Regions from separate parts of the Homo sapiens genome. Here all the other regions are reported to be linked to region 6. Evidence: microRNA targets listed by miRTarBase, many of them from high-throughput screens and not tested one by one. Region 6 holds a microRNA gene; each other region holds the end of a gene's coding sequence.
What was found. The annotated mature microRNA hsa-miR-6743-5p reads AAGGGGCAGGGACGGGUGGCCC and lies in region 6 at 939-960, shown strand. An mRNA with a match to its seed (bases 2 to 7 or 8) in the 3' UTR can be bound and repressed. Matches are read on the target gene's strand: a 7mer-m8 pairs with bases 2 to 8, a 7mer-A1 pairs with bases 2 to 7 and ends in A, and an 8mer does both.

Region 1 (3,260 bases), not on the chromosome of region 6:
TCTTCCCATGGCCGTTTCCCTTCCCGTGTCCGCCCCCTCAGTCTTGTGCCCTGCCCCTCACTTTCGTGTCCCCGCCTCCACCCCTCAGTGAAGGACGCCGACGGGGTCCTCTGCCGGTACAAGAAGATCCTGGGCACCTTCCAGAAGCTCAAGAGCATGTCGCGGGCCTTCGAGCACCACCGCGTGGACAGGAACACCGTGGCGCTGACCACGCCCATCGCCGAGCTGCTCATTGTGGCCCCCGAGAAGCTGGCCGAGGTGGGCGAGTTCGACCCCTCCAAGGAGCGCCTGCTCGAGTACTCCCGCCGCTGCTTTCTGGCCCTGGACGACGAGACGCTCAAGAAGGTGCAGGCGCTCAAGAAGAGCAAGCTGCTGCTGCCCATCACCTACCGCTTCAAGCGGTGATCGCACCACGCCTCCGCGCCTCCACCCGGGCCTTCCTCCCCCGTGGACCCCGGTGGATGACCTGCCCCTCTCCCCGCCGCGCCCCTGCCCCTCCTCCTCGCTCCCTGGGTTGGGGGCTCCCTTAGCCGGGCCCCCAAGCGCGACGGCCCCGGACCGGCCGCGGCCCCTTCCCGAACGCCGGCACCCCCTTCCGCTTGGGCTGCCCAGCCCTGTCCTCGCCGGGCCCCTTCCTCCTGGAAAACCAGGCAGGCGGGTGCCCCCCCCTCGAGTGGGGGACTGTACAGACCCCGTCTCCGCCCTGGCCCCGCGGAGGAGCTGCCCACCTGATTCCCGGACAGACCTCCCCAACTCCGCGTGAGACAGAGAATTATTCAGATAATTTAAATTAAAAAACGACGTGAAAATTTGGAATAAACTTGGCCTCAGCCTCTTCCTAGGAGGGGGACGTGCCTGGGAGGGGGCGGCCGTCGCCCCGAAGACGGTGACGGGGTTGCGGGGGCTTCCAAGGGGGTGGGTGGTCAGGCGGGAGGACGGGTAGGATACGGTGTAATTAGCCCCCCGGAGGCAGAGATGGAGAGTGAAGCAGCTGCGCCCCAGAAAACTCGGAGGCAGAGCTCGGGAAAAGAAGCGCGGACACAGCCGGGCGCGGTGGCTCACGCCTGTAATCCCAGCACTTTGGGAGGCCGAGGCAGGCGGATCACGAGTTCAGGAGATCGAGACCATCCTGGCTAACACGGTGAAACCCCGTCTCTACTAAAAATACAAAAAATTAGCCAGGTGTGGTGGCGGGCGCCTGTAGTCCCAGCTACTTGGAAGGCTGAGGCAGGAGAATCGCTTGAACCCGGCAGGCGAAGGTTCCAGTGAGCCGAGATCGCGCCACTGCACTCCAGCCTGGGCGACAGAGACTCCGTCTCAAAAAAAAAAAAAAAAAAGTAAAAAGAAGCGTGGACACTACCCGCTGGGCTACCCAGACCGGAGCGCGGCGCGAGAGGCGTGAGTCGATGACCTCTAGCGAGGGAGGCCACCTAGCGGCCAGGCCAAGTCTGGAGGATACTTCCGTTGGGCCGCCAGGGGGCAGTAACGCCAGATCATCTGTCTCCCGGAAGTAATGCCAGATGATCCGTCTGCCGCGCCTGCGCGGCGGGAAGAGCCGGAGCGCGTTGATGTGGTTGCCGAGACAACCAAGAGGGTGGCCGGATTTAACGGCTGGGGATTAAGCACTTTCACCGTTGTAAGGGAAATCTCGCGCACGCGCAATGGGGACTGAAACCTGGTCCCCGCAACCCCCTTCACGGGAGCAGTGGGAGAGCGCGCCACAGAACGACTTTTACGCAGGCGCAGAAGCCTGTTTCCCCTCACCCGCGGCTTCCACCCTGCGCAGGCGCAAAAAGCCGCGCTGGCAACCTCCGCAGCGGTCGCGCGCACCCTTCATCCCTCTTGCTGCTTTTGTCTGGCACAACCTTCTCAGGCCCTCCGCGAGGCCGGCCCTTTTTTTCTTTCACTTTCCCCACCCGGAGAGCCAGGTGCCGAGAACTAGGACCTCGTCCCCTTCTCTATCCCTTCCCCTGATCCATCTCGTCTCTGTTCTCCTTCCCTTTTCCGTTCCCGAAGCCGGAAGGAGCCGAGGTACCCACGGAAAAAGTCGAAGCTGTCCCCGGAGAGTGAGGCCTTCACGAAGCGGTGGCGGAAGGAGCCGAAGTTCTCTGATCGGAGGCGTGAGCAAGTGGCATCTCCGGAAAGAGCCGAAACACGGACTCGAGCTTAATCCCAGGAGGGGCCCGAGGGCGAGATCCGGAAATCTCCGGAAAGAGCCGAAGGCCGGGACGGTTAGGATTGTCGGAAGTGGCCGATTGCTTGGACAGGGCCGGCGGAGAAGATCGGAGCAAGTCCGTGGAAGAAGCCAAAGACTGGGACGGATTGAATTGTTGGAAGAACCCGAACTCGCAGAGGGGACTGGGCGCAGTGGCACACGAGGACACACGGAAACCTCCGAACGTTGAGGAGATAATCTCGGAAAAGTTACGGAAACCTGGGAAGTCGGCGAAACCCTACGTTCGGGTGTTTTCGGAAGCAGCCGAAGCGGCCGCCTGCTTCGCCTTCGTCCAGTATCCGGAGATAGCCGAGGCGCTTCGGAGCCAGGCTCGGGGGGAGGGGCAAGCTCGCGGGCGGGCGGGCGGGTGAGGGGGCGGAGCCCGGGCGGGGCGGGGAGGGCTGCCGGAGGCTTGATTAGGTAGGAGGTGGCGAAGCGCCGGCGGCGGCCGGAAGTAGCCGAAGCCAGCGGCGGAAGTAGCCGAAGCGGCTGGAGCGGGCGGCAAGGCGAGGCGAAAGCTGCACAGGGCCCTACGCGGCCGCCTCAGCATGTCGGACTTCGACGAGTTCGAGCGGCAGCTCAACGAGAATAAACAAGGTGAGGGCACCGGGGTCGCGGGGCGGAGGTGTGGGCGGCTCCTCGCGTCGCTCTTTGCCCCCCCGCCATTTTCTCCCTCGCTTCCCCCCACTTCACGGCCGCGCGGCGCCCCCCAACCCTGGTTCCGTGGCGCGCGCCTCGTTCACGTGACGTCCCCAGCGTTCCGCCGCGCGCTAGGCGAGGGGAAGGGGGCGGCGGGGCGCGGGCCCGTGACGCATGCGCACGGCGGCTGTCCCTGCGCCCCACGTGGTCCTGGCGGAGGTGGCGCGGGGGACGCGGCACGAGCGCGCCAGATGCCTCGACGTGAACTTTTGTTTTTTAAAATCTTTTTGGTTTCTCTGAAAAGGAGATTATGTTAGTCCCCGTAATCTCTTTTCTCCCGCTGCCTTGGCACTTCCGCTTCCGGTCGGGCCCACGGCAGCGTCTCCACGCCCCCTTTGTTTCCAAA
Region 2 (3,260 bases), not on the chromosome of region 6:
CTAGGCCAGGTGCAGTAATCCCAGTACTTTGAGAGGCCGAGGTGGACGGATCACTTGAGGTCAGGAGTTCAAGACCAGCCTGGCCGACATGGTGAAACCCCATCTCTACTAAAATTACAAAAATTAGCTGGGTGTGGTAGCATATGCCTGTAGTCCCAGCTACTCGGTAGGCTGAGGTAGGAGGATCACTTGAACTCAGGAGGTGGGGGTTGCAGTGAGCGGAGATCGTGCCACTGCACTCCAATCTAGGTGACAGAATGAGACTCCGTCTCAAAAATAAATAAAAAATAAAGAAATGATGGGGGACATCTATTATATCCTTCTTCAGGCCTTCCTCTGCTTTTCTTCCTTTCAGGCCAACCAGGATCTCCCAACCCGAAGACAGCAGGCAGCCCAATAATGTGATCAGACAGCCTTTGGGTCCTGATGGGTCTCAAGGCTTCAAACAGCGCAGATAAATGCAGGCAAGAAAAGATGCCGCCGTTGCTGCCGTCACCGCCTCCTGGGTCGTCCGCCACGGGTTGCACTGCCGTGGCAGACAGCTGGACTTGAGCAGAGGGAACGACCTGACTTACTTGCACTGTGATCCCCCTTGCTCCGCCCACTGTGACCTTGAACCCCATGCACTGTGACCTCCCCCCTTCTCCCCCTTCCCACTGTGATTGGCACATCGACAAGGGCTGTCCCAAGTCAATGGAAAGGGAAAGGGTGGGGGTTAGGGGAAGGTTGGGGGGACCCAGCAAGGACTCAGAGAGTCAGACAGTGCCACTTGGCCACTTGGGGTAAAGCCAGTGCCAGCAATAACAGTTTATCATGCTCATTAATTTGGGATTTCAAAACACAAATGAAAACTCACACCCACCCACCCCCAAGTGCATGTCTCCATCACTTAAAAAGTAAGTTCCATTTGAAAATATCCTTTCTTTTTTTTTTCTTCCTATTTTTGTTTGTTTATACAAATATCTGATTTGCAAGAAAAAGTGCATGGGAGGGGTTTTAGTGGTTTAATGAATTTTTAATTAAGAAAGGGTAGTTTGGTAGTCTACTTAAAAATGTTTCTGGGAAATTCACTAGAAACATTAACCAATAGGATTTTGGTGAGCTTAGCTTCTGTATTCCTACTGCCGCCCAGAAAAGGGGCAGGGCTCTGCAGCCGCCAGGACAGACGAGCACCCCATGCCTATACCTCCCTCCCCGAGCTAAGTCCCAGGGCATCTGGGCCTTGCCTGGAGACTGGGCTAGCTCTGTAGGCTCGGAGAGCCTGGGGAGGGTGCCAACCCCACCTCTAGTATTTTGGGAGATAGGGAAAGTGAACCGACTTCCCCTTCCCATACCCCTCAGGGTGGTTCCCTACCAGCCAGGCTTACTACTTCTAGAAGAAAGCAGAGTGCCAGGGAGTGAGATTGCATCCCTGGGCTTAGAAGTGACGGAGAGAAGACTTGTTTAGTATTTTGCCATCAGCACAAGGAAAACCAGGAGAGAGTCTGCCTCCAGGACTCTGAGCCTTCTGCCTCGTATGTTCAGAAGGTGGATAGGTCTTCCCACTCCAGCATGGCTTGAACTCTTAGGGGTCTGCAGTGCTCCATCTCCATTGGTGGCCCCAGCTCAGTAACTATACCTGGTACATTTCCTGTGTGCAATCAGTACCTTGAAGGCAGAACATTCTGAATAAAGTTGGAAAAAGAACAGCTTTGCTTTGCAAAGATTGATGACAGACTGGTTCCTCAGAGGCCTAGGCTACCCGTCACCCCTTTTTCCAGAGCGAGGGCCTGGAATGAAGGCAGTTTATCCTCTGTCCCTGGAGCCTGGGGTTTGCTTTGGCTCCTTGAGGTGGAAGAGACTAAGAGGGCAGCTGCCCAGAGCAGCTGTGTGTACCTGGCTCCTCTCAGGCTTCCTGATCCCTTCCGTTGCACTGCGCCTTATCCCTCAGCCAGCCAGACAGCCTCCCTGCTCCTGACCAGCAGATACGTTTCGGAGTGGTTGGTGTGGTTTTTGTGATGAGGGCAGCACGTGGTGGCCAAGGTGGCAAGCTGAGTCTCACAGGCTCACTCCCTCGTTGGTTCCCTGTGGGAATGGTAGGCCAGGCCCAGTAAGCCATGCCCCAACACGTCCTCTCCTCCGGAGGAAGGGCCAGCTGCCAGCTGAGTCAGCAGCTAGTCCATAGCACAGCCTTATAACTGTAAAGCCAGGCATTGCCCATGAGCAGAGCTGGAACCAGAGCTTCAGTCAGTAAGAGGGAGGATTACCTTCAGGAGAAGGCAAGGAAGAAAACTGGCTGCTATCTTTATAGTTCCACTGCCCTAACCAAGTGTCCACATTCTAAATGTGTAGTGTCCATCCCTTATGTAATAGTGGTTTCCCGCCCAAAGTGAGACTTTCCTTTTAATTGGAGAAGGGTATAGAGGTAGTCCAGGTGGGAACGCCAGAAGTGCTGATTGCCCAGCCATTGGGACCACCTGTTCTTGCCCCACTACCCTCTAGTGGGAGGCCAAAGTAAAGGCTGGCTGGTGGGTGTCTGTGGATTGAGGATGTGGCAGGGACTGGTCCTCCCACCTCCCTCTGGCCAAAGATGGGCTTTGCCCGCTGTGTGCCTGTCACCACCCACCAGCAGTCATGCCCTGGGCTTCCCAAATGGAGAGGTAGCAGGCAACGTTTTTAAAAAGAAAGAAAACAGGAAACTGTATTGTGTCGGGGGAGGCGGGAGGGAGATGAGGAAACGGTTTGGATTTTGTGTGTGGGAGGGTATTTTTTGGGGGTAGTTGTCTGTAACTTTCCTAAGTGCTTTTTTTCCTTTTCTTTTTTAAAGTAAGTTGCAGGCTTTGGCTTGGAAAACCCCAGGGGGATGGGGGGCAGAAACCTGAGGCTGCTGCCCCTTTATCTGCCTTCACGGTACTGTCCCCTTCCCCCAGCTCCTCCCTGACCCCATGGGCCAGGCCTCAGACCTTCCAGCTAACCGCTTCCCATGAGCCACTACTCTGATGTCAGCCTATAACCAAAGGAGCTGGGGGGTCCAGGCCTGGTGACCAACCTTTCTCAGCCCACTCAATCAGGGTGCTCCCCACCTGCAGGCAGGAGGCAACACCCTATCTGCTACCATCAGCCCCTTCCAGAGCCCATCTGCCCCGCCCAGCCCTGCCCTGCCCAGCCATACCCTGCTCTGCCCCATCTGGGGGTGCCCTGCTCAGGGATGGGCTGGCAGGGCTGTACCCAGCCTCCCTGGTAAGCAGAGACTCAAGAAACCTCTGGGGTCCTGTTTTCTG
Region 3 (3,260 bases), not on the chromosome of region 6:
CAGGGGTGGGCCTCCCTTCGGAATCCTGCTAATCAGCACAGCCATCCAGGCAGCCGCTCAGGATGCCTCTGTTTGGACAGGGTGTTTTCTTTCCTGTCCAGACCAATGGGGGCCCTGGCCTGGACAGCCCGATGTTTCCTCAGCAGAAAAGACTAAGGAGGTCCTTCAGCTTTGGCTGGGGGAAGGGTCGAAGGGTCACAGGGTCACAGAGCTCAGAGCCTCTTCCTAAACACAGCTCAAGTTGGCCCATGAGTGTGTGTGTGTGTGTGCATGTGTGTGTGTTACACACAGCCAGGGGCACATTGGAGCACAAAGAACTGTGATCAACAGGTAAACTACACCTAAAAGGAACGCCAGGCTTGATGGGCAAAGGGGAGCCAAGGTAGGTCCCTCTGCAGGTTCCCGACAGGGGAGAGGATGGACAGTAGGGAGAGCACATTTTGCTACAGTTAAGTCGAGTTGAACATGCCAGCCAGGGGTAGGGGTAGCCAGCAGGTGGAATCTGAACGCTCACCCTCTGCCTTGCAGTGGGGCAGAAAAAAGTCAATGTGTAGGGGTGATGGTAAAAGCTGGGCAAATGGAAGACACTGCTGAGGGAGAGAAGCCAAGGAAGGAAGGAGGGGGTCAGGAGTGAGGGGACTCCACTCCAGGGTCCCAGGAGGGGGACTTTTAGAAGGCTGTGGCCAACCCATCCCAGAGCAGAGATGCTTCTCCCACTGTCTGCTTATCCCCAGGGTATGCTGGAACAGGGGTTCAGGGCAGGAAACTCCCCCGGGAGGGAGACCTGAGGCTTGGAAGCACGCAGAAAGGCTTGGCTCTAAACCCAATCCACACCGCTCCGCAGAAGAGAGCTCTGAAACGGGAGGCAGTAGGCCAAGGGACACCCAGGGGAAGGGAGTCCCCCATCCTCAGTTCCTACGAAGACCACGGCCTGGGCCTTTTATTCAGACCCTGCTAGGCCCAGGAGCCCAGCAACCGCAGGTCTCAGAAAGGAACCACTTCCAGACACATTTCCCTGATGTGGTTCCAGCAAAGCCACGCCCTCCCTTTGGCAGCCCTGTGGCCCCACCTCCTGCTGCTCAGAGGCGGCCCCACCTCCTGCTGCTCAGAGGCGGCCCCACCTCCTGCTGCTCAGATGCACCCCCTGCCTGCAGAACACAGCCGGCTCCCAAAGTTTGGAAAAATTCACCTTGACAAAGAGGGTGGTTTTTCCTACACCCCTTCCCAAGCTAGCCAAGCCTCTGCCTGCAAGTCACCCTTCCAGATCACCAAGACACTGGCCCGCAAGGCCCACCCCCACTTCTTGATGACCCCCACACAGGGGAGGGCAGAGAGGGTATCCCTGGAGCACACACGCCAGTGGCCTACCAGGAACCAGTGTGTTCAGGCAGGAGGCCTCATGCCCACTTGGCAGAGCCCCGGCCCCCTCCTCCAGTCCCACGCTGCACCCACCCCAGGAACTCCCGCAGTTCGGAAGGCATCCAGGTTCACTGAGTTTCTTATAGTTTCTCCAGCCCACCACTCCAGTTGCAGAGAGAATGGAAACTGCTGAAGGGGAAAACCAGCTGCCCCAGCCAGTCTTCCTGGCAGGAAGGGAGCAAAAGCATTCAGGAGACAGTGTCTGCCAGCACTCGCTGGGCCCCTGACCAGGCAGCAGTTGTAGGGCTCAGGGCCAGACGGCATGGAGGTAGAAAGCAGAGGGAAGAGGGGAAGTCAGGTTTTGAGGACCTGGAAGTCCTGACTTCCTTCAGGCCGCCCTGGACCAAAGTCTCCAGCCTCCTGCTATGAAGCTATGTGTAGTCAGGCAGGTGACATAAAGAAAGATGGGGCTGGGCACGGTGGCTCACGCCTGTAATCCCAGCACTTTGGGAGGCCGAGGCAGGTGGATCACAAGGTCAAGAGATTGAGACAATCCTGGCCAACACGGTGAAACCCTGTCTCTACTAAAAATATAAAACTTAGCTGGGCATGGTGGTGTGCACCTATAGTCCCAGCTACTTGGGAGGCTGAGGTAGGAGAAATGCTTGAACCCAGGAGGCAGAGATTGCAATGAGCCGAGATCACACCACTGCACTCCAGCCTGGCGACAGAGCAAGACTCCATCTCAAAAAAAAAAAAAAAAAAGCAAGCAAGCAAGCTGGGGCTCAGGGAGGACCACAGGTGGGGGATGGGGAAACCAGCGCAATTTAAATCCCATTCCCATGAAACAATAACGAACCACACCAAGAGTTCCCGTGAAGAAGATAAATATATTTTGGAAGCTGCCTGTGTCCTCTGGGGTGAAAAGCCAGCATAGAGGGCCCCAAACGCCCACCCTGCCAACCCATGCCCTCCTCTGACCTCGCTCCCTTTCTCCCCATAGACCCGCCCCACCCCCTTCTGTGTCGCTGGGCTTCAGGACAAGGGGCAAGAGAGGCAACCAGGGAGACAAGGGGAAGTGTCTTGGGGACAGGGGGCCACAGCAGTTGTGGCCACATGGTACCCCAGGGCCGACGCAGGGCCGACGGGCAAGAGGCTGTTATCTCCAGCCTGGCGCTTCCGGGCCTTTCTTGAGGCCACCATGGGAATGTGATGTGTGAGAGAGGGGCTAGGAGAGACAGAGACACACGCACCTGGGATCGGCGGTCCGGACAGGGGCAGGGAAACCACACGCCCTACTTTGCCCTTTCCTGTCCATCCCAGACCTACTCAGATCCCTCAGTGCCTAAGAAAACAGGACAGTGAGGACTGGGGGTTAGGGGACGGGGCTTAGGGGCTGGGGCAGGGCCCGTGAGAGGTGGAGGGTGGGAAAGAGGGAGGGAGGGGTGACTGTGTGGTGGTGCTGCCTCTGAACACCCTCCCCTTCCCCAGTCCCCAGCCCTATGGTGATTTAAAGGGGCTGAGAAGCCAAGAGGCAGCGGGCCCATGGAAAGCAGGAAGACCTGGGGGTGGCAGGTGGCCACTAACAGCCCAGCAGCTCCAGGCGCAGGGCGATGCGGTTGTGCCAGGCTACAGGCAGGATGCGCACATAGCGAGCCAGGATGGGCGTCTCAAACAAGTTCTTCTTGTGGGAGTGGTTGTCCCAGTTGCCAGGGAAGATCTAGAGGCAGAGCGGGTGTCAGGAGGACCCCGAGCCAGCCCCCCTCCCCTCAGAGCCCCAGGCCAGACTCCCAGGGAAGTAATGAAGGAATGGCAAAGGGTGGGCAGCTGGACAGACACCCACCTTACTGCTGCCAGTCCTGGGGTCCTGGTACTCAGTCCAGTTCGCACTGTCATTACTG
Region 4 (3,000 bases), not on the chromosome of region 6:
CCTGGTGCCCAGAGCGGGGACAGTTGGTGACTCGATCCAGGAGAGGAAGTCACCTGCGCCCTGAACTCTGAGGCTCACATCCTGTGAACCTGCTCAGGAGAGCTAAGGTGTGGCCCACCAGTGCCTTTTGGGGACTCATAGAAACAGCTCCTCTCACCTAGAAAGAAACAGAGCCACCATCTTCCCACCCCTCAAAGGTAATAAAACCATGGAAAATGATCAAAGGAGGCTGATGGAAGGGGAGAAAGGAATGAAAAGAAACAAGAAAACAATAGCAAGTGTTAAAAGATGAGAAGCTCTGGCAGTGGGGGAAAACAAAGCACAAGATAGGGGCAAGAGGAGAGAAAGGAAAGAAGAAATGAAACAGGAAGGGCTGGGTGGGGATTTGCAAATTGTCCAGCAAAAGACGCTTCCAGCTTTGATGATGAAGGAGCAGGGGCCAGAGGGCAACATCCTTATCTCTGGAATCCACTCACAGGAGCCATTGGGGATCCATTTTCTCTCCCATCAAATTCTTAGATTTTAGGTTCAGAAGCTTCATCTACATCCAGGTGTGAGACAGACAAGTTTGGGAGAACTTGTTCCAGGCTCTCCTCTCACCCACCTCCCACAGAATTTGAGAAAATTCCCCCAACTACAGGTGGGCAGGAGGGTTGAAAGAACAGCTGTGGGGGTACCCGTGCCCTCCCCCATCCTCGGGCCAAGACAGGAGGCAAGGCTAGAATCTCCCCATATGTTCATGAATCTGAAGGTGGGGTTGCCAAAGGCCCCATCTGGAACTCTGGGGACAGTGGGCTCACAGAAGAGCCCACACCATAGAAGGGGTGGAGAACAGGGAGAGCAGGGAGAGCAGACATCAGGGGCGGCATGAGAATTGGACGCATCTCTTTTGTTTGGTCCCTTCCTACACCTGGACTTGAGTGCAGGACAACGGGACAGGGGCATTGCCCTAGAGTCTTATTCCCCAGTGCCCTGCCTCGGGCCTCCCTCATTCCTTGGTGTACCAGAAGTCACTGTTCCGTAAACCAGGAGTACTGAGTCCTGGGTGGGTGGTGGGGGGGTGGCTGCAGCCGCTGGAGATGTTAGGAGGACAGAGCTTTGAGAGAGCAGCCACACCTTCCTGTGCCCACAGTAACGAGGCAGCAATTGGCTAAGGTAAGTGGTAGGTGACCCAACAGGGACAGGAGGGACCATAGTAAACACACGAGGCCAGAGACAAAAACACGGCCGGACAAATACATGACCCAGAGGATGCCACTGAGTGACCAACTCTGCCCCATGCACGCTGCGCCATTGAACATCCTCGGCACTCAGAGCCAGTCCCAGGCAGGACAGGGGAGGGCAAAACCCCAAATGTGACTGAGTCACAAACCTACGGCAACTCAGAAATCATCATACTGGGCTGAGGTTACTTTGAAGTGTCAGGTCTCAGGCTGGCAATTAATTTTAGTTTTAGGAAAGTAAAGTGATGTTTTGCACACCTGAGTGGGTGGCTTGCGAAGTTCATGCCTGCAATCCTAGTACTGATTCCTCAAACTCTCCTAGAAAAAATACCATCAGCCTTCCTGGCTGGCAAGTGCTGGGTTCACTGCACCTTGGGCCACTCACTCATTGCCTCGCCTGCCCTGATCTCACCAGCCTCCTAGTGGCCTCCCACAAAGGTCAAGGGAGTCACAGCTGACTCTGTCACTATAGTTACAGGAGGAGCCCAGTACTATCTCAGTGCTGAAGCCAGCAATCCACACTTTCGTGAAAGGCTCCACTAACTGTCACAAGCTCTGTGCTCAGCTAGAGAAAAGGAGCAGAAGTCCTCCTGTTGGGGCTGCAAATTTGCTAGGCATTGCATGTTCCCAGGCCCTGCCCTGCTGCTTCCGGGAAGAGGCCTTTTAAGTAAGCATTCCTGGGCTCTGAACCAGTGTGAGGGGCCAGCGTCCCTATATGACAACCACTGCAATGTCAGGTGCCTTTCTGCTCCCAGGCTGGGTGCTGAATAGAAGGGCAGCAGCAGCTGGGAAGTGGCCCCCTGGAGACTGGACAGAGCTGCGCCCGGCAGCATACATTCCCCAGGGCCCTCCCCATTCCTTGATTTTTTAGTAGTCAATGCAGTCTAAATTGGGGGTGAGGATTCTCAGGTGCGGTGTTGCTACAGGCACTTGAGATCTAAGAGGATGTGAGGAGCCTCAGACAACCCCTTAGGAAGGTCCACTCCACCTCCAGCCCCAACTATGGGGAGAGAGGAAGGCTTCAGGGCTACCTTGTAGGGGAAGACCAGAGCCCAGGCTCCCACCAGACCACCCAAGAGCCAACAAAACAACTGTCCTCTGGCAGCAGGGAAAGGCCTTCTGGAACTCTGAGGCTCAGCCCCAGCAAAGGCTGGGACCATGACCCAATTCCTGGGAGGCCAGATATGTCCACCCTGGGGGTCCTTTGGGCTCAGAACCTGGGCCCTTCCTTCAAAGTCAATCTGTCAGGAGGCCTCGGTGAGAGCTTGGTATCTGAACAAACGAAAAGAGACTGCTGTTCCTTTACAAAACTCGGGCTTATCACCATCCCTTCTTCCCAGTACAAGGTCGCATCTTTGCCGACCAAGTTCAACTGGCAGCTCAAGGGGCAGGGGAAACTTTAACCTAGGCAGGATGTGGCAGGGCCAAGCAAGCGCTGCGTGCCGAGTCTTGACATCTTCTCTGGCAAGGGCCATCCACACTGAGGCCCCGAGGGTCTCATGCTATGGTCGCATTTAGACTTCTCCCTTGGTGTGCTCTGGAAGTTTTTCAGACACAAGAAATTCCCTGGCTGTCACTGAATTTTTCAAATATGGATTTGGGGCTCCTTCCTCACACAGATGATCTGGTACTAAACTTTGACCAGAAAAGAGAAGCTGCTCTTTGGCTTCTGGGCGGGTCCCCTCTGGCATCCTCGAACGTAGGTATTGGGATTTTCTGGGCGGAATCTCAGGTGAAACTGGGAGCTCCTCAAAACTTTTCCCCAGGGGACAATCAG
Region 5 (3,260 bases), not on the chromosome of region 6:
AGGGGTCCACACTGGGCAGCAGTGCGCCCCGGGCAGGCGGGAGAGGGCCTGGAGCCGCGGCCCAGTCAGCCTGGAGCCCAGAGCTGTGGAAGGAGGCGAGGAGGCCACGGCTAATTTGTACACTAAATGCTTCTGACAGCGATGCCTCATAAGTGAGAACTTGCCACTGCCCACCCCGGGAAGGCTGTGGCCAGCAGCGCCAACAAGAGGGGCCAGGAGAGGGCACCGTGGGGGCACAGGGCTGGGACAGACCAGATACACCAGAGAGATGGTGCTGTTGGTGGGGGTGAGACCCAGGAGGAGATGCGGGGGAGGGGAGAGGCCTGCACAGAGAAGGGAGGGGAGGGCTGGGCGGGGGCCGGGCAGTGACAGTGGGAAGGAGTCAGCCCCGACAGCTGCCACCAAGGTCTGCCCCGCGCCAGGGCTGTGTGTCCTGCCCAGCCAATCCTCCCTGCTGCCTGCAGGACGCTCGCATCTTTTCCCCTTACCTGCTGCCAGCCGCCTCCTCCAGGCCTCCGCAGCAGCCCCTCACGTGGCCCCGGCCCAACACCTGGCAGGGTCTGTGCTGTGGGACCCTGAGTCCTCTGCAGACGCCCCCCCTTTCCCTCATCACCTCCCTGTGGGAGCTGCTCCCGGGGGCTTTCAAGTGGAGAGGAGGCTGCTGGCTGGGCTAGTGGGGACTCTGGGCAGCTGAGGGGGTGGGCACGGACCCCTTGCCTGCTGTGCGGGACTCCTGCAAGAAGGAGGGTCCTTCTTGTGGGCCTCTGTCCTGGGCCACCCCAGGACTGGGGTGGCAGAAGCCAGAGAGGTGGGTGGTGGTGGGGGTGGGGCCAGGGACAGAGGAGCAGGGTCTCGGGAGGAACGGGGGTCCCAGATACCCCAGGACTAGACAGAGCCAGCTCTGTGCCAAACAGGAGCGGGCACGAGCCCGGCCCCCACCCACAGGAGGAGTGTGACGTGGCGCAGTCGCGGAGCAGCAGGGCCGGCGTCCGCGGGCACCGAGGTGAGATGTGTTCTGGCAGCTCCCCGCCGCCCGAGGCCCGCCCGGAGCGAACACTGCTGGTGGCTTTAATTGCTTTCACATTCGATACGCTGCCCGTGACAGCCTCTTACCCCGCGCCGGCCGCACCCCAGCCCCCAACTCCGTCCAGGGAGACAGCAGAGCCTCCGAGCGGGCGCTTTGCTCAGCAGCACCCGTGTGGGGGCAGAGGCCACCCTGGGACGAGGCTGGGAGGGGACAGGAAACTTTTCTCCCCACGCGCCCCCTCACTCCATCTGCTCCTGCCGGGTGACTGATGGGTTCAGACAGAGCCCCCCGTGCGGATGCCTCGCTGGAAGAAGCTGCATGCGCTGCTGTCCCGTCTGCCCAGTCCTTCCCGGCCCTGGGGCTGCGGCCGCAGGGTCTGACCCCTGCCCCCGCCCAGTCACTCCGTCCTTCCTGGCTGCGTCCATTTGGCAGGGCCGGCTGCCCCTTACAAGCTTGTGAGTCACCCCACCACGGCCATCTCCAGGGGCCCCCACCCGTCCGCCTGCCCGGGATGCCTGGGCAGGGCCTACCCCTCAGACCTGCAACCTCCCCGCCCTTCCACAGGGCCCTGCGCGGGGCAACAGCAGGAGGAGGAGGCGTGATTACAAAACAAAACGCTTTTATTTGGTCCATTGGAGCCTGAGTCGGAAGCCACTGTGGAGAATCCTATGGTAAAGGAACGGGACTGACAATTGATAAAATAGTCTCTGTGTCACAAGAGCTGGCCGTATTTACAGGGTTAAAAATATTCACAGCTCAGAGTACAGGGAGGCCAAAGGGGAGTGGGAATGTTTCTCCAGGTGAAAAGGCCCCGGAAGCCCCTGCCGGGGTAGGAGGGGGAGTGGGGGCGAGGCCGGCCCGCTGCCGGGAGTGAGGGGCCAGGAGGGCACGCAGAAAGCTGGGCTCAGACGTCCACACACTCCTGGGCTTCTGTGGGGAGGTGGGAGCGGCTGAGCCCTGCCCGTGCCCACGATGTGCTGGGGTCCCTCTCTGGCAGGGCCGGGCCGAGGGACAGGGTTGGCTGAGGAGCCTGCTGGTCCCAGTGTGCCCGGCAGCAGTGAGCGGTGCTGAGAACTGGTGCCCACCCACAGCGGGCCTGGCGCCCGCCTGCACCCAGTCATGGCTTCGATCCTGGCGGGCACTCCAGGATTTGCATAGTGTCGCTGGGGGGCTGGCCAAGGGCCCCTTCTTCTGAGACAGGCACCGCCCCGGGACTCGCCGCTCCACACCAGGGCTCCAGGGACCCCGCCTGCCCTGTGGGGGACAGGGACCCGGGCTCTGGGGGAAAACTGACCTTATGCCCCGTGAGGGGTGGTCCCTGATCCCACCCCAGGGTCTTGGCCTCTGACACCCAGATTTGGTTTTGCGGACAGAGCTCCTGGCTGCCTAGCCCGCAGGAGACCCTGAGCCCACAGGGAGGGGCAGCCTGGCCTCGGCCCCCGTCGGGTGTTGGGGCTGGCAGGTGAGCGGGGCTGGTTCACAGCCCGCCTGGTTCGAGGTATTCTGCGTGGCGGCCAGGAGGCCTGGCCAGGCGGACTGTGGGGTTCAGGGAGGGGAAGGAGGGGGGCGGGGGGCCCATGGGAAGCTGAGCCCTGGGCTGGCAGCTCCCTGGGCGGGGTCCTGAGATTCTGGCTCAAGCGTCCTCTGTCGGGGTCTCCCTCATAAAGTGCGTGTGGGGGTGGGGGGTCCGTCTGTGCACAGCCCCTGCCCCAGGCATGGTGGTCACAGCGGTCGGGGCCCATGCAGACCGGCGACCTCTGGCGTGAGTGGGGGGCTGTGGGTCCCCTTGGAGGCTGTCCAGTCACTGAGGAAGGCCTGGGCTGCCTTGCGATGTGCCAGGCGGTGGGTGATAGAGAAGCCGGCGTTGCCCTCTAGCTGGGACAAGATCACCAGGACCTGCCTGGGGGAGGGGACCGGTGAGGACCTGTGGAGGGCAGGGTGGGGATGGGGGCAGGGCTGTGCCCACCTGTACAGGGGCAGGAGCAGGAGTGGGGTGACAAACACCCGTACAGGGGTGGGGGCAGGGGTATGAGCACACCTCTGCAGGGGTGGGGGGGGCATGGGTTGGGTGTGGGTGCAGCGGGGTAGGGGAGGGGGCACCTGTGCAGGGGTGGGGGGGCACGAGTTGGGTGTGGGTGCAGCGGGGTAGGGGAGGGGGCACCTGTGCAGGGGTGGGGGGGCAGGGGCGGGGGCGCACCTGTGCAGGGGTGGCACGCTATCCTGGGTACGCAGG
Region 6 (3,260 bases):
CGCCTGCATTCCCCAGCAAACGCCTAACGAACCCAATGGCCCAGGACTGAAAATTCCTTTCCACTTCGGCTTTCCCCTCTACATCCCATCGGTTCTGTGGAGCTCGAGGGGCGTCACTGTGTGTGTGGCAGGGCACGGTGGGGGCTGAGATCGTTTCCTGTTGGAACTTCTGGCCCAAGAAGCGCGGGTCACAAGGAGAGGGGTCAGTTCGGTTCAGAGCGACTCAGCCCCTCGACTCGGGTCTTAAAACCTCCGAGCCGCCAGTTCTGCCTCAGGCCGCGCCCCCTTAAAGCGCCACCAGACGCTGCGCCCCGTTAAAGCGCCACCAGACGCCGCGCCCCGTCCCGGCCTCCCCCGCGCGCTGGCGCGGGGCTTTCTGGGCCAGGGCGGGGCCGGCGAACTGCGGCCCGGAACGGCTGAGGAAGGGCCCGTCCCGCCTTCCCCGGCGCGCCATGGAGCCCCGGGCGGTTGCAGAAGCCGTGGAGACGGGTGAGGAGGATGTGATTATGGAAGCTCTGCGGTCATACAACCAGGAGGTAAGCGGCCGCCTGAGGCCGGGGGGCGGGCACGGAGGGGGTGGGGCAGGGTCGTGCGCGGGTAGCAGGGAGGGCGTGGGTGAGGCAGAGGCTGTGTCAGCAAGCGTAGGGGACGCGGCGGGGTGCGGGGGGCAGGTCTGGGATGCAGTGTTGCGGGGAGAGTGGGGGTGCACCCGTTGGGTGGCAGGCGTGTAGGGATGGGGGCGAGTGCCGACCCTGCCATCCGTTCTGAGCAGTGGCTGCTGCCTGAGTTAGAGGCCAATAGGCCGCCCGCATCAGCGGACGCGGATCCTACCCCTCTGTGGATTTGAATTCACTAGTTCTCTCTGCAGCACTCCCAGAGCTTCACGTTTGATGATGCCCAACAGGAGGACCGGAAGGTGGGTGCTGGCCCAAGGGGTAAAGGGGCAGGGACGGGTGGCCCCAGGAAGAAGGGCCTGGTGGAGCCGCTCTTCTCCCTGCCCACAGAGACTGGCGGAGCTGCTGGTCTCCGTCCTGGAACAGGGCTTGCCACCCTCCCACCGTGTCATCTGGCTGCAGAGTGTCCGAATCCTGTCCCGGGACCGCAACTGCCTGGACCCGTTCACCAGCCGCCAGAGCCTGCAGGCACTAGCCTGCTATGCTGACATCTCTGTCTCTGAGGGGTCCGTCCCAGAGTCCGCAGACATGGATGTTGTACTGGAGTCCCTCAAGTGCCTGTGCAACCTCGTGCTCAGCAGCCCTGTGGCACAGATGCTGGCAGCAGAGGCCCGCCTAGTGGTGAAGCTCACAGAGCGTGTGGGGCTGTACCGTGAGAGGAGCTTCCCCCACGATGTCCAGTTCTTTGACTTGCGGCTCCTCTTCCTGCTAACGGCACTCCGCACCGATGTGCGCCAGCAGCTGTTTCAGGAGCTGAAAGGAGTGCGCCTGCTAACTGACACACTGGAGCTGACGCTGGGGGTGACTCCTGAAGGGAACCCCCCACCCACGCTCCTTCCTTCCCAAGAGACTGAGCGGGCCATGGAGATCCTCAAAGTGCTCTTCAACATCACCCTGGACTCCATCAAGGGGGAGGTGGACGAGGTGAGCACTGACCTTAACCCATGGATGGGTCTCAACTCAGCTCCAACATTTCCTGGACCTGCTTCCTACTGGGTACCTTCAGGTTTCTGGGTGTCAGACATGGAGAGGACAGGACCTCCCAGCCTGTTGGGACAAGGCCAAGGAGATGCCAGTTCTGGGCTGGGACCTCAGGAAAGGCTTCTGAGGGAAGTAGAGGCCCCTTCTGGCTCTTGCTGCCTGGCAGGAGGGCTGTGTGGTGTCTGGGGAGACTGTAAGAGATCCTCCACCATGAGGCTGTGAGTGGGGCTGAGACAGAGTGTGACTTCATCCCTAAGGTATGTGTTAGCATTCCTAATCAGGGAAGTGCTCTTAGAAGAATACTCATGGAGTTTTTAGGAAGACAGCAGTGGTCATCTTTTGCCCCCAGCACTACCCAGAGTCACCTAGGAAGACCCCAGGGGACCAGGTATGCAGTACAGGAGGTGCACAGTCATTGCCACACAGTCCTGGAGTGCAACAGACAGTGGAGCCTCAGCAGGCAGCAGTGGGATGAGTGGGGCTCCTCACAGGAACCCTTCTTTCTTTGGTCAGGAAGACGCTGCCCTTTACCGACACCTGGGGACCCTTCTCCGGCACTGTGTGATGATCGCTACTGCTGGAGACCGCACAGAGGAGTTCCACGGGTGAGAATGGGGCTTTTTCTGGGAGGGAAGTGTGCCCACATGTCTAGATGGTCGTCCTCAACCCCGGCTCTGAACCAGAACCACCTGAGAGCCCAGGCCCCACCCTAGAGAGTCTGACGTTGTCTGGGTGAGTGAGACTGGACATAGCCATGAATTTGGGGGCAGGAATGTGCCAACTGGGCCTTGGGTAGTGGCAACAGTATGGTACTTACTAGGGCACATTGGTTCCTTGTCCCCGTTTTTGGTCTACCTGCCCCTAGGCTGGTCTGGGTTTCCAGAGATGGTCTGGCGCTTTGGCTCAGACAGGGTCGGGGAGGCAGTGTGTCTCAGTGCCCCCACTTCCCCAGGGGACCCCACTGTACAGCTGAGTGGCAGTGCCTCTCAGATCAGTCCCTGCCCTTGGCTTTGGTCCCTAGCGCTGCCCCTTTGGGACTCAGATGCCAGCTCATGTAATGTGTGGTTCAGCGGAGTCACAAAGATTGCACCTGTGCTCAGGGATTAGCCCTGTTGAAACCCCTACCTCCATCTGTCCCCAGCCACGCAGTGAACCTCCTGGGGAACTTGCCCCTCAAGTGTCTGGATGTTCTCCTCACCCTGGAGCCACATGGAGACTCCACGGAGTTCATGGGAGTGAATATGGATGTGATTCGTGCCCTCCTCATCTTCCTAGAGAAGCGTTTGCACAAGGTAGGCTGGGGATGGCTGTGCAGGCTCCCCCAGTGGCTCTGGCACTGGTTCTCCTGCACAGATGTGGTCAGTGCTTCCACACTGTCCACACTGGTACGTGGAGATTGTCTTGGTGGTGTGATATGGGCGACTCTTCCGGTTGTTCTGTGGTCCAGCCTGGCAAGAAGCCAGACCCTTCCTCCATGAGAAGCATGTGGACACCTTCCACACACTTGAAGGTTTCACTTCTTAAATCTTTGGGGATCTTTACTGAGTGGTCCAGAGAAGCCCCCCAGTCCCTACTTTTAAGTCTTAAACACAGGCAGCCCTTGAT
Region 7 (3,249 bases), not on the chromosome of region 6:
GAGCCCGACCATCCTTTCTACAGCAACATCAGTAAGGATCGCAGGTATGCAGACCTCACAGAAGATCAGCTACCCTCCTATGAGAGTCCGAAGGATACTATTGCCAGAGCTCTGCCCTTCTGGAATGAAGAAATAGTTCCCCAGATCAAGGAGGGGAAACGTGTACTGATTGCAGCCCATGGCAACAGCCTCCAGGGCATTGCCAAGCATGTGGAGGGTCTCTCTGAAGAGGCTATCATGGAGCTGAACCTGCCGACTGGTATTCCCATCGTCTATGAATTGGACAAGAACTTGAAGCCTATCAAGCCCATGCAGTTTCTGGGGGATGAAGAGACGGTGTGCAAAGCCATAGAAGCTGTGGCTGCCCAGGGCAAGGCCAAGAAGTGAAGGCCAGCGGGGAGGATACTGTCCCCAGGAGCACCCTCCCTGCTGGTCTTGTCCCTCTGCCCCTCCCACCTGCACATGTCACACTGACCACATCTGTAGACATCTTGAGTTGTAGCTGCAGATGGGGACCAGTGGCTCCCATTTTCATTTTAGCCATTTTGTCGCCTGCACCCACTCCCTTCATACAATCTAGTCAGAATAGCAGTTCTAGAGCACAGGTTCTCAGTCTAAGCTGTGGAAAAGCTCCCCTTATCCAACAGAGTTTAAAAGTAGTGACTTGGGTTTTTGTGAGTGCTTTGTTTACTAAGGACTTTGGGGAGGAACATGCTAAGCCACGACCAATGAGGAGAAGCAACAGAGCCTGTCTGTCCCCATGAGCAGAGTCTGTCCTCTGCTCTTCTGCAGTCAGGCCACTGCCTGGGGGCTCTAGTCATTCCAGTGGAAGATGAATGTAATCTGCATGGTGATGTGACAACTGTTTCCTCCTTGACCCCAGAGGATCTGGCTCTAGGTTGGGATCAATCCTGAATTTCGTTATGTGTTATATTTACTTTTATTAAAAAAGTATAGTATATATTAATAATACAAAACAATAACCCTTCTGGGGTTTCTTGTGGCGGTTGAAATAGTCCCACATGTGGTCATCAGAAAATAAGCCATTCCTCATACCAATATAGGATCAGCTCCTTGACCTCTGAGGGGCAGGAGTGCTTCCTGGTGTGTGTATTAGAATCCCTTCCTGCCTTGTTTCATGGCAGTGAAATGCCTCTTGGTCCTGTCCAAGTGTGTCTTTCACTGATTTCTGAATCATGTTCTAGTTGCTTGACCCTGCCACATGGGCCCAGTGTTCATCTGAGCATAACTGTACTAAATCCTTTTACCAGATCAGTATAATAAAGGAGTGATGTGCAATTAAAAAAAAAAAGTATTACAACATCATTTTAGTTTTGGTGAGCTCAGAGAAACTTAAGCAGAAAATGCTGAACCATGCCCGCTGCTACTAACAAAGCAAGATGATTAATGGACTCTTGTAACTTCTCCAACTAATTTCTGTGGAGCTTTGAACAATTAGACCACCCAGTCTATGGTATTATGTTATGGAAGCCTGAACTAAGACATATGCATTCTTTTTTAAATTGGGATATAATTCACATGCTATAAAATTCAGCCTTTTAACCTACAGAATGGGAGAAAACATTTTGCAATCTACCCATCTGACAAAGGTCTAATATCCAGAATCTACAAGGAACTTAAACAATTTACAAGAAAAAAACAACCCCATCAAAAAGTGGGCAAAGGATATGAATAGACATTTCTCAAAAGAAGACATTTATGCGGCCAACAAACATATGAAAAAAAGCTCAACATCACAGATCATCAGAGAAATGCAAATCAAAACCACAATGAGATACCATCTCACACCAGTCAGAATAGCAATTATTAAAAACTCAGGAAACAATAGATGCTGGTGAGGCTGTGGGGAAATAGGAACGCTTTTACACTGTTGGTGGGAATGTGAATTAGTTCAACTATTGTGGAAGACAGTATGGCGATTCCTCGAGGATCTAGAACCAGAAATACCATTTGACCCAGCAACCCCATTACTGGGTACATACCCAGAGGAATATAAATCATTCTACTATAAAGACACATGCACACGTATGTTTACTGCAGCACTATTTACAATAGCAAAGACTTGGAACCAACCCAAATGCCCATCAATGATAGACTGGAGAAAGAAAATGTGGTACATATACACCATGGAATACTATGCAGCCATACAAAGGAATGAGATCATGTCCTTTGCAGGGATATGAATGAAGCTGGAAACCATCATCCTCAGCAGACTAACACAGGAACAGAGAACCAAATGCTGCATGTTCTTGTTCATAAATGGGAGTTGAACAATGAGAACACATGGACACAGGGAGGGGAACATCACACACCGGAGCCTGCTGGGGGGTGAGGGGTGAGGGGAGGAAACTTAAAGGATGGGTCAATAGATGCAGCAAACCACCATAGCACACATGTACCTACGTAACAAACCTGCACGTTCTGCACATCTATCCTGGTTTTTTTTAGAAGAAATGAAAAAAATTCAGCCTTTTAAGGTATCCAGTTCAGTACTTTTTAGTACATTCACAAGGATGTGCAACCATAATGACTATGTAGTTGCAAAACATTTTCATTACTCCAAAAAGAAATCCCATGTCCATTAGCAACACTCCCCATTTCCTCTCTACTCACAGCCCCTGGCAAACACTAATTTTATTTCCTATCTCTACGGATTTGCCTATACGGCCATTTCATATAAATTGATTCATTCAATATGTGTCCTTGTGTGTCTGGATTCTTTCACTTAGCATAATGTTTTCAAGGTACATTGATGTGTAAAATGTATCGGTATTCCATTCTTTTCACTTTCTTGATGGTGTCCATTGAATCACAAAAGCTTTTAATTTGTGAAGTCCAATTTATCTTTTTTCTTTTGTGTTTTTTGTGTCATATCTAAGAAACCATTGCCACATTCAAACTTACGAATATTTACTGCTATGTTTTCTTCTAAGAGTTTTTGTAGTTTTGGCTCTTATATTTAGGTCTTTAATCCATTTTGAGTTAATTGTTGTACATGGTGTATGGTAAGGATCTGACATACATTGTTTTACATGTGGATGTCCTGTTTTCCCAACACCAGTTTTAAAACATTCTTGAGATGTAGTTCACGTATTATATAATTCGCACATTTAAAGTGTAGAATTCAATAGTTGTTAGCATATTCACAGACATGTGCAACCATCACCACAGGCAATTTCAGAACATTTTCATCACCTAAAAACAACAACAACAACAACAAAACATACC

Region 1: miRTarBase lists CCDC106 as a target of hsa-miR-6743-5p. Seed matches in the 3' UTR shown: 7mer-m8 at 468-474 and 7mer-m8 at 491-497.
Region 2: the mRNA of SZRD1 is a reported target of hsa-miR-6743-5p. Seed matches in the 3' UTR shown: 7mer-m8 at 2,868-2,874.
Region 3: miRTarBase lists MFGE8 as a target of hsa-miR-6743-5p. Seed matches in the 3' UTR shown: 7mer-A1 at 2,750-2,756, 7mer-m8 at 2,633-2,639 and 7mer-m8 at 2,403-2,409.
Region 4: the mRNA of IL31RA is a reported target of hsa-miR-6743-5p. Seed matches in the 3' UTR shown: 7mer-m8 at 2,607-2,613, 7mer-m8 at 938-944 and 8mer at 328-335.
Region 5: miRTarBase lists CAPN15 as a target of hsa-miR-6743-5p. Seed matches in the 3' UTR shown: 7mer-m8 at 2,445-2,451.
Region 7: miRTarBase lists PGAM4 as a target of hsa-miR-6743-5p. Seed matches in the 3' UTR shown: 7mer-m8 at 445-451.

The regions. Positions count from the first base shown.
Region 1 is chr19:55,652,342-55,655,601 of GRCh38, forward strand. It overlaps CCDC106 (coiled-coil domain containing 106), which reads left to right. Exons shown (of 5, transcript NM_001370470.1): 5 at 89-820. The coding sequence ends at 405. U2AF2 (U2 small nuclear RNA auxiliary factor 2) reads left to right here and starts at 2,694. Exons shown (of 12, transcript NM_007279.3): 1 at 2,694-2,812. The coding sequence starts at 2,764. RefSeq lists an enhancer at 1,820-2,489 and silencers at 2,540-2,589, 2,680-2,729, 2,940-3,079.
Region 2 is chr1:16,394,683-16,397,942 of GRCh38, forward strand. It overlaps SZRD1 (SUZ RNA binding domain containing 1), which reads left to right. Exons shown (of 4, transcript NM_001114600.3): 4 at 356-3,260. The coding sequence ends at 458. It also overlaps a transcript of SPATA21 not described here. Among named protein-coding and RNA genes, the nearest start is that of SZRD1, 29 kb to the left of the region's middle.
Region 3 is chr15:88,896,454-88,899,713 of GRCh38, forward strand. It overlaps MFGE8 (milk fat globule EGF and factor V/VIII domain containing), which reads right to left. Exons shown (of 8, transcript NM_005928.4): 7 at 3,203-3,260; 8 at 2,230-3,079. The coding sequence ends at 2,942. Among named protein-coding and RNA genes, the nearest start is that of HAPLN3, 2.5 kb to the left of the region's middle. RefSeq lists enhancers at 925-1,219, 1,156-1,205.
Region 4 is chr5:55,916,858-55,919,857 of GRCh38, reverse strand. It overlaps IL31RA (interleukin 31 receptor A), which reads right to left. Exons shown (of 15, transcript NM_139017.7): 15 at 1-3,000. The coding sequence ends at 2,738. Among named protein-coding and RNA genes, the nearest start is that of IL31RA, 67 kb to the right of the region's middle.
Region 5 is chr16:553,006-556,265 of GRCh38, reverse strand. It overlaps CAPN15 (calpain 15), which reads right to left. Exons shown (of 14, transcript NM_005632.3): 13 at 3,225-3,260; 14 at 1,630-2,927. The coding sequence ends at 2,750. Among named protein-coding and RNA genes, the nearest start is that of PRR35, 5.8 kb to the left of the region's middle.
Region 6 is chr11:208,403-211,662 of GRCh38, forward strand. It overlaps MIR6743 (microRNA 6743), which reads left to right and starts at 934; the gene lies at 934-1,004. It overlaps RIC8A (RIC8 guanine nucleotide exchange factor A), which reads left to right. Exons shown (of 10, transcript NM_001286134.2): 1 at 1-536; 2 at 869-916; 3 at 1,005-1,598; 4 at 2,169-2,260; 5 at 2,797-2,947. The coding sequence starts at 453. RefSeq lists enhancers at 1-512, 587-1,174 and silencers at 20-218, 219-508, 579-688.
Region 7 is chrX:77,966,012-77,969,260 of GRCh38, reverse strand. It overlaps PGAM4 (phosphoglycerate mutase family member 4), which reads left to right. Exons shown (of 1, transcript NM_001029891.3): 1 at 1-1,312. The coding sequence ends at 387. All of the region lies in intron 1 of ATP7A (ATPase copper transporting alpha), which reads right to left. Among named protein-coding and RNA genes, the nearest start is that of PGAM4, 2.0 kb to the left of the region's middle.